Homo sapiens: one gene and its partners. The protein of the gene in region 2 interacts with the protein of the main gene of each other region in a pairwise test. Each region holds a gene or a part of one and is shown on either strand. Other genes may lie near its edges. The genes, in order: EHF, FRZB and ELF5.

Region 1 (3,655 bases), on a different chromosome or scaffold from region 2:
TACTAAGATATGATATGAAAATGAAAATGTAGGGAAAAACCTTTTTAACTAGCTTGATTCTTCTTTGATTTAAAATCTAATCAATGCCATCATGATTACATCCAATCTGTGAGATATGTCTGGATAAAATGTGGTGACTCTTTCCTTATTTATGCCTCAGCACATGTACAAGCAGTACACATCACATGACCTTGTTTGCTTGCAACTCCTCTCCCATTATCATATATAAAAGCATATATATGTATGCTTATATATATATATATATATTTGTAAATGCATATGAATCTAGTCTGTTTTCTTCCCCAGACAGATTCTAAACATCTCAAGAACAGAAGCCATGCCTTTAACCTCTCTGACATTCAGTCTTCCCACCTGTAAAATGGGCACAATATTTACTTTGTCATAAAGTTATTAAATGAATTAATTCACTTACAGTGCCTAGTATAAGTAAATACTCAATAAATGTTAGTTGATAGAAGGTCTACACAAAGGCAAACAACAAAAGAGTGAGCAATCTGCCTGGACATTAGGAACTCAGAGGCTACAGCAGCATGCGATGAGACCAAACAAGTCATGGGAAGTCAGAGACAGAAGGTCTAAGATGGCCACAGCACCTCCCAGGCCTCCCTGCCTCAGACCTCAATCAGGGCAAAGCTTTAAAGGAGTGGATTTAATTGGGGGGTGGAGGTAAATATTTTTAATTCTTCAAGTGTAAGTCTGATCTTTTTGAAGATCCCTGAGGGTTATTTATAGAGCCTTGTTTGGTTTGATTCTAGTCAAAGAAAAAAGAGCAGCCACCAATGTGAGGTGGGTGGGAAGCAGGGCATGGCCAGGGAGCTGAATGACATCATCTAAAATGGCCACCGCAGCCACAAGCTCTGCTGCAAGGCCCCAGGTCCTCTTCAGTGTTGATGGCTGTTGCCAGGGTATGACTCTGGTTCACAGCCCTGGAGCTCATGCCGCCCAAGTCCCGGTTACTTGCCCAAACATGGGTTCTACCAAGACATAAATGCCTTTTCCAGTGCAGACAGGCCAACTCCCTGTTCTTAAATATTGCTACTTTTCAGGATGCCCATAGTTCTCAGAAGAGCTAGATTTTTACAGCCACTATCAGGGGAACCTTATGCCAGTGTCAAAACCATTCTGCAAGGTCAGTTGTCCACCCTACTAGGTCTTACATGTCAGTATAGGATATGTTCGTGTATGAATAATCTACCACTCAAAGACAACATCTGGAATGGTGGCCCATCCCTGTGCTAGGGGAAGCCTCAGAGAGACATCTGGGGCATTAGGGCAACAGAAATTCCAGAAACCACCACAGAAACATTCCCCATACACGTGTCTAGACCATATGTTCTAACCCTTTTTTTAAGTTACAGACCTTTTAAGAATCTGCTGAAGTATTGTGAGTTTTTTCCCCTCCCAAAACACAAACATAGTTCTAATTTCATATATCTTCTTACCACCCTTAGGACCCTATCTTAAGAACCTAGGTCTAGAAGGTTCTTTGTGTGTGTGTGTGGGGGGGGTTTTGTTTTGTTTTGTTTTTTGTTTTTTGTTTTTTTTTTTGTAACCATGATGATCTTTTTAACAAGCAAGTGACTGGACTGTTTGCAAAGGAAAGAAAACATTTTCCAAGGATAGTAAGTATTCTACGAATTCCTAGCCAGCTTTTGTCTTCTTGAAAATTATCACCATAAGGAAAGAATTAAATTACACTGGCATTTATAAGGGATTAGGCACACCAGGTACCCTATGCTTCAATCCTGTCCTTTCATCTTCCTTCCATTTCTCTGTCTTGGGACATGGTAATTTGGAGGTGAGACCACTCTTTCTTGTCCCTGACAAAGAATCCTGTCATCTGCAGAATCTCTATTCTTCCAGCTGGCTCCTAGCAGGGTAGGGAGAGACACAGAAAGAGAGAGTCACCGTTCCACTTCAGATGCTGCAAGTTGCTGTAGAGGAGCTGCCCCGCCGTCCCTGCCGCCCGGGTGAACTCCTGCAAACTCATGCTGCAGAGGTGCTCGCCGTTGATGTCGAACTCTTGGAAAGGGATACAATTGGCATCCAGCTGGTTGGTGTCCAGGAGGTGCTGGAGCCACTCCCACACCTGGTACTTGGTCCAGTACTGAGGATGAATTTCATGCCACTGGCCTCCAAAAAACCCACTGGAAACTGCAAAACAGGAAGCAGCCTCATGAGTGACCCCTGGCTGTTCCTGGCCATAGTATCTGACACAGGGATGTACTGTTGGCTGCCAGATATCTCAGAGACACAACCACAGTCCGTGTATGTGCCAGCATGGGTGATGGAGCAGAAGTGCATTTTCATGTCCTCCCTAGCCTGCTACCTACCCCTGGACACTGGATGAGGACAAGAGAGCTGAAGTGCTCAGAGCTCATCCCCCACCTCCCCCAAAGTAAAATATCATGAAAGCTAGAGCATTGCTATCATTTCAGCAATTTATTAGCTTATTGTCCATACCCAAATCGTTCTCTTCCTCTTCTCTCTCACTCACTCTCTCTCATTTTTTCTCTCTTATACATACACACACACACACACACACACACACACACACACACACACCACCAAACTCAGACCATTTTCAACTAAAAATAAGGCCTGAAATTAAGGTTCTTTTCTCTACGATGCCTTTGCTTTTCCTCAAAGTGGTCCAGATTATTGATCTACTAACTGGACTGATATCCCACTGCCCCAGCCTAGTCATTATAGCTATCATGATGTCACTTCCCTACTCAGTTACCTTTAGTAGTCCTCATCACCCACTGAAATTAGGTATAAAGCTGCCTAGCTAGGCATTGAGGCTCTTCACTAACTCTTCTTCAAGTAACCAATAACTTGTCTTTTCTCTATGCTGTTCTTTCAGCTAAGCTTGTGTTCTACCTCTCACTCCTGTTGAATTCCTACCCATCTTTCGAACTCTGACCATCCTGTAAAATCATTCCCAATCCCCCCAACTTGCTTCAAGGGCTCACTGTCCTCTTACCCTCCAGGAGACATGCTTGGTATTTCTAATGGCTTTGTCATGTTCTGCTTTTCTGTACAGGTCTCTAAGTGCCGTCTTATTCTCCTTTGTAAATTGTATGCTTGAGGTCACAGACTGTTTTACTTGTCTTTGTATCACCTAAAAAATGACCTCAGAGACTTTGTCATAGTAGATGCTCACCATATATTTATTTAATGGAATGTATTTTTGAAGAAGAAATAAGGTAGGCATCTGAGGAGTTGGGAGGTACGTTTAAAAGATGGTACATTCACAAGATGGTACATTCAGATGCCAATGAAGAAGTGCAGTTCATTAAACTGGATAAATATTGCTGAACCTAATATGTGCTAACCATCTGTATATGTGACTCATGCTCACTTAAAAAAACATTCCATAGTCTGCCCGAAGTTCTGCGGCAATGGAAAAGACAAACCAGCATCTGAGGGCATGTAACAGGGCTGAGAGAGCTTACAGTTCCCTTGGAAATAGATGTTGGGAAGGAACTCTCTTTCAGGAAAGATGAGTGAAAGGGGCAAGGGGCAAAGACTATTGCATCCCACCAAGCTGAAGCAGGGGAAATCCAACAGAACGTGACACATGGATATTCCAACAAATTCAAGGGTGGACCAGTAGAAGAAAATGTAGTGC
Region 2 (3,655 bases):
AATTTTTTGATCAATTATTAGAAAATTTTTGTTTTCTGTCTTACAGTTCTAACAATTGACTTCTAAGCATTTGTAAAAGCGTAGAAACATTTTCCTTTGAATAAGAATGGAAGAAGTAAAACACTCTCCTTGGCTTAGCTATTTTGAAGTGATTCCCTTTCACCAAGCAAAGTTTTATTTTTCACTCTTATTTCTACCTTTGAACAATAAACATTTCAAATATGGGCCAATATAATTTCTTCCTTTATGAAGACATTATTTTTGTATGTAGTTTATCACATGATTATTCAGAAATAGAAAAACCACTGGCACGTTACTGTAATACTTGGGTACATTTATCATGAATAAATGTTTGAATATAATGAAAGTATTAGTAATTAATAGTTTATGCCCAAGTTGAGCCAAATGTTTTAGAATTAGTGTTTGTTACTTGCTTATCTGTTTGTTTGCTGACTGCTGTCTTTTCTTGGATATTGCTTTTTAAATACTTGCTGATGATTACTAAACCTGGGAAAGTAATTCATTAATTGTAATTGTGGGTGTTATAGTCCTAAAATAGTATTAACCCCTTGTTTAATTTATTCCTGATAGGACCTATAAACAAAAAGGACAAAGGAAGAATACTATTTTCTCCTAGAATAAATAGAGGCATTAAATTAGTTTAGCATAAAGTGTTACTACAAATGTAAAACTCTTATATAAAGTACTAAATTGGAGTGTCAATAAGGATATATTGCTAGGTACAGCATCTCTCAGCACGGTGTTCCGCTGGTGCACTGTTATTCATTAGAGGCTGCTTTCTTAATTAGAACACAGAAAACCTTTATCATTACTATTTTCTGGGATTATGGCATCCTAAAAAGAATCAATAGCAATTTCTAATTATTGTCACATCTATTAATTGCACTGGCTTGAATAGTCCCTGAATAGTAGGTTTCTTTTCTGTTGAAGAATTATTTAGCCTGCAGTTAAAGGACATGAGAATGATTTCTGAGTGTTCGTTTAGGAACTAAGGATTTAAATATATACCAGTTCAGTGTGATATGTCCATTTATTGAAGATGCGTTTGGTTTTTTTTTTGTCATCAAGTCATAAGTGTTGGATGAGTGCCTAATATTTGCATAGGCTTTATCATGATAGGATGCTTATCATTTACAAATTTTGTGAAATTCAAATAAATTATTAAATTCTAAAATTTTATGCACAGTTGAGTATTCAGAAGAGTATTTCCTTATAACCACATGAAAAAATAAGTCTCATCCATACTCAACCCATGAATGATAAGAATGCCGACCTCATGACGTTAATAAAAATCTACTTCCTTCAGACAATTGGATTCTTACCCAAATCAAACTTGTGACTGAGTTAGATTTTTATCTTTAGGAATTCTTGAAATAGATATGTTATAGTTCTTTTTTCTGTCACCTCCTTTCAGATTTTCCTATGGATTCTAGTAACGGAAACTGTAGAGGGGCAAGCAGTGGTGAGTATATCATTATCTTCCTGGTTTTCATTTGTGGTCAGATTAGTCATTGATGTAATTTAGATACTTAAGTCATTCATGGGGAAGCTTGTGCCCTACATTTTACAAGTAAACTTTTTAAAATTCCCTCATTTATATTAATTTTATTTTTAAAATTAGCACGTAGTAAAATTGGACTTTTATTTGGACATATAGTTTGGTACAGATGAATTTTAATATTATGTAGAGATTTATGTAACCACCACCACATCAGGATACAGAACAATTCCATCACCTCCCAAAACTCCTTCAAGCTGTATCCCTTTATAATTACAAGTTTTCCCTATCTTCATCCACTGGCAATCACTCATCTTTTCTTTATCACTATAGTTTTCTCTATTTGAGGTTCGATTGTCCATATAGACAGACTGACAGTACGCCTTTGAGACTTAACCAATTGCTGCATATATCAATGGTGCATTCCTTTTTATTACAGAATATTTTATTACTTGGATGTATGACCATTTGTTCACCCATTCACTCCTTCAAGGAAGTTTGGGTTGTCTCCAGTTTGGAGCAATCGCGAATAGAGCTACTATAAACATTCCAGTACAGGTTTTTGTGGGAATGTAAGTTTTTATTTCTCTAGGCTAAATAAGTAGGAATAGGATCACTGGGTTATATGGTAAGTATATGTTTAGCTTTGTAAAAAAGTGCCAAACTGTTTCCAAGATGGCTGTTCAATTTTGTGCTAGTAATGTATAAGAGTTCCAGTTGTTCTATATCTTTGCGAGCCCTTGGTATTATCAATATATTTTATTGTTAGCCATTTTAATAGGTATGTGATAATAGCTCATCATGGTTTTAAATTGCATTTCCCTAATGGCTAATGATGCTGAATACATTTTCATGTGTTTATTTGCTATCCACATATATGCTTTTTGGTAAAATGTTCAATAATTTTGCCCATTTTAAGTTGGGTTGTTTTCTTAATGAGTTCTGAGGGTTCTTTACATATTCTGGATACAAAAAACATCTTTTGGTTTTATTCATTTTCTCTATTGTTTCACTGTTTTCAATTTTATTGATTATTTCCTTCTGCTTGCTTGCTTTAGAGGTTTATTTTGCTTTTTCTTTTGTTTCTTAGAGTAGAAGCTTATATTGTGTTTTGAGACTTTTTTTTTTTTTTTGAGATGGAGTCTTGCTCTGTTGCCCAGGCTGGAGTGCCGTGATGCAATCTCAGCTCACCACAACCTCCACTTCCTGGGTTCAAGCAATTCTGCCTCAGCCTCCCAACTAGCTAGGATTACAGGTGTGCACCACCACACCCAGCTAATTTTTGTATTATTAGTAGAGACAAGATTTCACCATGTTGGCCAGCTGGTCTCTAACACTTGATCTCAGGTGATCCACCCACCTTGGCCTTACAGAGTGCTGGGATTACACACGTGAGCCACCATGTCCGGCCAAGACCTTTCTTCTAATATAATGTAATGCTATAAATACCCATCTAAGAATGACTTTAGTTGCATCTCACAAATTTTGATAGTTTCATTTTTCTTCAGTTCAAAATATTTTATATTTTTCCTTGATATTTCCTTTGACTTGTGCATCATTTGGGATTATGCTGTTTAATTTGCTGCTTTTTGAGGATTTTCCTATTATCTTTGCTATTTTTCAAATTCTACTGTTGAAGAATATACTTTGTGTGATTTCAGTTCTTTTAGATTTATTAAGGTTTATTCTCTGATCCAGGATATAATCTGTCTTGGTGAATGTTCCATGTACACTTAGAAAAAAGAGTATTTTGCTGTTGGGTGGAATGTCCTTTAAATGTCAATTCAATTTAGTTGATTAATACTGTTATTTAGTTCTTTTATATTCTTGCTGATTTTCTGTCTACTAGATCTATTGATTACCGAGAGAAGGGTGATTAGGTCTCCAAATATTGTGGATTTTTCTATTTCTTTTTTCAGTCTGTCAGTTTTGCTTCATGTATTTTGAAGCTCTGTTTGGTACATACTTGTTTAATATTTTTTATGTCTTATTGGTGAATTGATGTTTTCATTATGTAGTGTCCTTTTATCCTTGGTAATTTTCTCTGCTCTAAATTATATTTTTTCTGATATTGCTATAGGTAATTCAGCTGTCATTTGATTAGTGTTTGCAGGGCAAAACTTTTTCTATCCTACT
Region 3 (3,655 bases), on a different chromosome or scaffold from region 2:
TAACTCGCTCCCTTTTCCCTAAAATCCCCAATTCTGGCATACTAGCTTCCAGTTATTGAAGGTTTGGATTAACGAGAACTCCAGTTAGTAAAATTTTGCTGTGCAATTCACACGATGGGAAAGGACTTCTCAAAGTTGTTTGGTCCTAATCCTGGTCCCTCCCCTGGAGGTCTGGCCCTCTGAACACTGACCTTGTGTGCGGATGTTCTGGAGGATGAAGTACAGGTACTCGCCGCAGAGGCCAGCTGCCTCGACGAACTCCTCCTGTGTCATGCTGCACAGCTGCAGGCCACTGATGTTGAAGTTGCAGAAGGAGATGCAATTGGTGTCCAACTTGTACTGGTCGCAGCAGAACTGGAGCCACTCCCACACATGGCGCTTAGTCCAGTATTCAGGGTGGACTGATGTCCAGTATGAGTCACAGGCTGCACCAAAGGAGAAAGAAGTGAGGGACAACAGTCCCAAGACAGCCTTCGAGAGGGCCCCTGAAGGATGCATCAGTTAAGTAACATCCTCATTCCTCAGCCAATAAGTTGAAAGGGCCTCCAGCCCTGGGTGTTCTGCAGAGCCCAGGTCACCTTCTATTCTGCAGAGAAAACCAGAGGGACTGGATCCTACAGATGAACTTTGGCATCATAGAGGGAATGACAGGGGCAAGAAAGAACCAGTCTTGGTGCTGATGCTCAAAAAAAAAGGCATTTAGTGGAGAAAGAAAGAAAACAGCCCTTCAGTTATTTGATTCCAGATAACATGATATCAAAAGCACAAACTCAGCTGTTTGACAAGCTGGGTTGAAATTCTGATTCTACCACTTTCCGCTTGGCAAGGTCTGTGGACATTGAAGTCTCAGTTTCCTCATCTGTAAAATGGGGATAATATGCTCAATGCCCAGGACTATTATGGAGTTTGGGGTTAATGTATGTAGAATGGCACACAGAAACTTACCAACCAATTCAATAGTTACTAAATGCCTACCGTGTGTCAGAAACCATTTGAAGCTGGTTTTGATTCCCTATGCTTTAAAGGGCAGCTGCCCAATGCTGGCTATTTGTTTCTGCACAGTTACTGGCAATCTTGTGCCAAGAACCTTGGGTTATTAGACATTGCCCAGAGTCTGACAGTCCTTGCGTCACCATAGTAGGCACCTCCAGAGGAAGGTGGTCATGGGAGAGTTGGTTGTATTGTTGTTCTTGTGTTTTTGGTGGTGTTCAGAGTAATTTCTATCCTGAGATCAGAGCCCCCACTCCTTTAGAGGAGTCGTGTACATGCCTAGACAGTTGTGAGTGCCATCTGTCTGGGAGGCTGGCATGTGGCTTTGCCTGGCCCAGGGGTAGAGATTTGGTGTTCAACAGTTCTGTCCTTCTGTTCTTAGGAGAAATGGAAAGTGGGGTGGACATAAGGTATGGAAGAGGTGCTGTATTAGGTACTTGGTCAGGCTCTTTGACATAAACAATTATTGTATCTGCCATGGAAAACATTCATTCATTTATTCATTTCATTCAATAAATAAAAGCTTTAGTTTCCTTACTGGTAAAATTGGAATAATTACAGCACCTGTATCATAGTGCTGTTCTGCAGATTAAATGACTTAATATACATAAAAGTACCTGGAACAGAGCCTGGAGGATTTAAATGCTATTACAAACATTATTATTGAATATCTACTATGTGTGCAGCCACACGTTGTATGTTAAGGATTCATGGTGGACAGGTTTGGTCCCCCGTCCCCCAGGAGATCACAGAAGAGGAACTTGAAAGTCATGAAGGACTTTCCCAAGAACCCACGCCAGCGTGTGGCAGAGCTGGATTTGAACCCTAGCCTGAACTTGAAAGCCATTGCTCTCCCCACACCACCATACCGGGTCAGCACAGAGCAGAGATGGAACGTGAAGAGTGGCTGAGGCACGGGGAAAGCTGGAGAGAACACAACACGAGGGCCTGAAAAGAAAGGCAGAGAGCAGAGAGTGGCTAAGGTGACGATGACAGAAAGGGTCCCTCACATGTTATACCCCACAGCAAATAGCAGTGGTGCGATTTGCAGCGTTTAAAGGTGAGTAGAACTCGCACCATTGTCAGTTGCTGATGATTCCAGGCAGGAGGTGGGTCCTCTGCCTGTCAGGTGCTACTACTCACTCAGCACCCTCAGCCAGCCGAGGCGCTACGCGTTCTTGTCGTCTCAAGTTTCTCAGGTCCCCTCAACAATCCTATCCAGTAGGTGTAATTGGGCTATTCCACAAAAAAGGAAATAGAGGCTCCCCTTAAAACTCAAAGGTCTTCCAGAGATCTCTTTTACCACCGAAGGGTGGGTGGAGGGGCAGTTGATTTATTTTATTTAAAAATTTTCAGAATTTTATATGCATTAAGATCAAAGCGTCAATATTGTGCCAGGGTGCTTGAGGCTGATGTCGTAGCCTCTACCTGGCAGATAGGAAGAGCCAGGGAGCCGGTGAGACCGATGACTCAGGTCTTGCTCACTGGCCACTGGCTGGAGCTGGCTTACCAGGCCCGTGGGGGCTCTTCAGGGCAGGCAGGGGTTCCTGGCAGAACAAGGGGCCATTCCTGAGTTCGGCCTGAGCTTTCATCTACTGATTTCTGGCTTTAGTAAACCTGAGGGGCCTTTTGGACTTTACTGGCGTCCTGTGAGAGATGTTTATGAGCCTTGACATTTTTCAGCTGCGGGCCCTGCCCTAGATGGCCATCGGTGTGCGGCCGTCGGAGGGCACAGTTGATTTCATGGAAAGGTTTCGCCAAGGCTCTGTTCCCGTTTCCCTCCCCTCCCCTCTCTGCTTCCACCCCCTTGTTATTTTCTTTGGCACTTGAAGAGGGCCATATTGTTTGCGGAAGCCAAGGGGGCCTCAAGGATTCGGAGAAACGCCCAGGCGGGGAGTCGGCCCCACACCGGGGAGGTGTTGCTGGCGCTGGCTCCCTGCTCCTCGGCGCTCTGCTTTGAAGCTCACCCACAGAGCGGCTTTGTGTGCGGCCTCGGCCCCTGGAGGGGAGCCAGAGCCCTGCGGAGGCTCCCTCTCCTCATCCGCAAGCTCCTTCCAAAGCCCCAGAACTGGGAGGAAAATGGCTGCTCTGGGTGCCATGGCAGGCCTCTTTTCCGGGGGTCCCATCCTCAGGACGGGAGGAGAGTGGCAGAGCGGAGGCTGCCCAGACGAGGGACGCCGCTGTCAGCCCCTCCTCACCAGCCCCTCTCCTGCTCTTCTCTTTCAGGAGGCTCCACGGCCCAGAGTCTTCCCACAGCGACTTCTCTTTGGATGGAACGTGGTCCCCATCTGCCTTCTCCTGAGGAATCTCTGCTCATCCTCACTCCCCCTCGCAGAGGTCTCTTCCTCCTCACTGAGTGCCCATCAGGCGTCCTCCTCATCCCTCCCCTCCAGACCTAGAGCTTTTGCTCGCCCTGAACCAGGAGTGCTTGGAGCCTGGCCTAGCCCACCACAGGCCTACCTCAGTGAGTGTGACTGACTGACCAGGTGACTGACAGTCACTCTCTCCACTTTACACGTGAGGAGATTGCCGTTCCGGGGACTGACGGGACCCCTGTAAGGTCACGCGGCCTGTCAGTAAAGGAGCTACTGAAGAGGGAAAAGTGGCATTTTCCCTCTTACCACGCCCCACTCTTCTTGGTTGAGGAGGACCAAGTTGGGCACAC

The links.
Region 1: the proteins of FRZB (region 2) and EHF interact in a two-hybrid assay, tested with the Homo sapiens proteins (one large-scale study listed by BioGRID and IntAct).
Region 3: the proteins of FRZB (region 2) and ELF5 interact in a two-hybrid assay, tested with the Homo sapiens proteins (one large-scale study listed by BioGRID and IntAct).

The regions. Positions count from the first base shown.
Region 1 is NC_000011.10:34,644,959-34,648,613, reverse strand, and holds part of EHF (ETS homologous factor), read right to left. Parts: intron 2,176-3,655; coding exon 1,930-2,175; intron 1-1,929. UniProt on the Homo sapiens protein: Transcriptional activator that may play a role in regulating epithelial cell differentiation and proliferation.
Region 2 is NC_000002.12:182,856,614-182,860,268, reverse strand, and holds part of FRZB (secreted frizzled-related protein 3 precursor), read left to right. Parts: intron 1-1,435; coding exon 1,436-1,483; intron 1,484-2,865; exon of another isoform or gene 2,866-3,655. UniProt on the Homo sapiens protein: Soluble frizzled-related proteins (sFRPS) function as modulators of Wnt signaling through direct interaction with Wnts. They have a role in regulating cell growth and differentiation in specific cell types.
Region 3 is NC_000011.10:34,493,288-34,496,942, forward strand, and holds part of ELF5 (ETS-related transcription factor Elf-5), read right to left. Parts: intron 426-3,655; coding exon 192-425; intron 1-191. UniProt on the Homo sapiens protein: Transcriptionally activator that may play a role in regulating the later stages of keratinocytes terminal differentiation. Isoform 2 binds to DNA sequences containing the consensus nucleotide core sequence GGA[AT].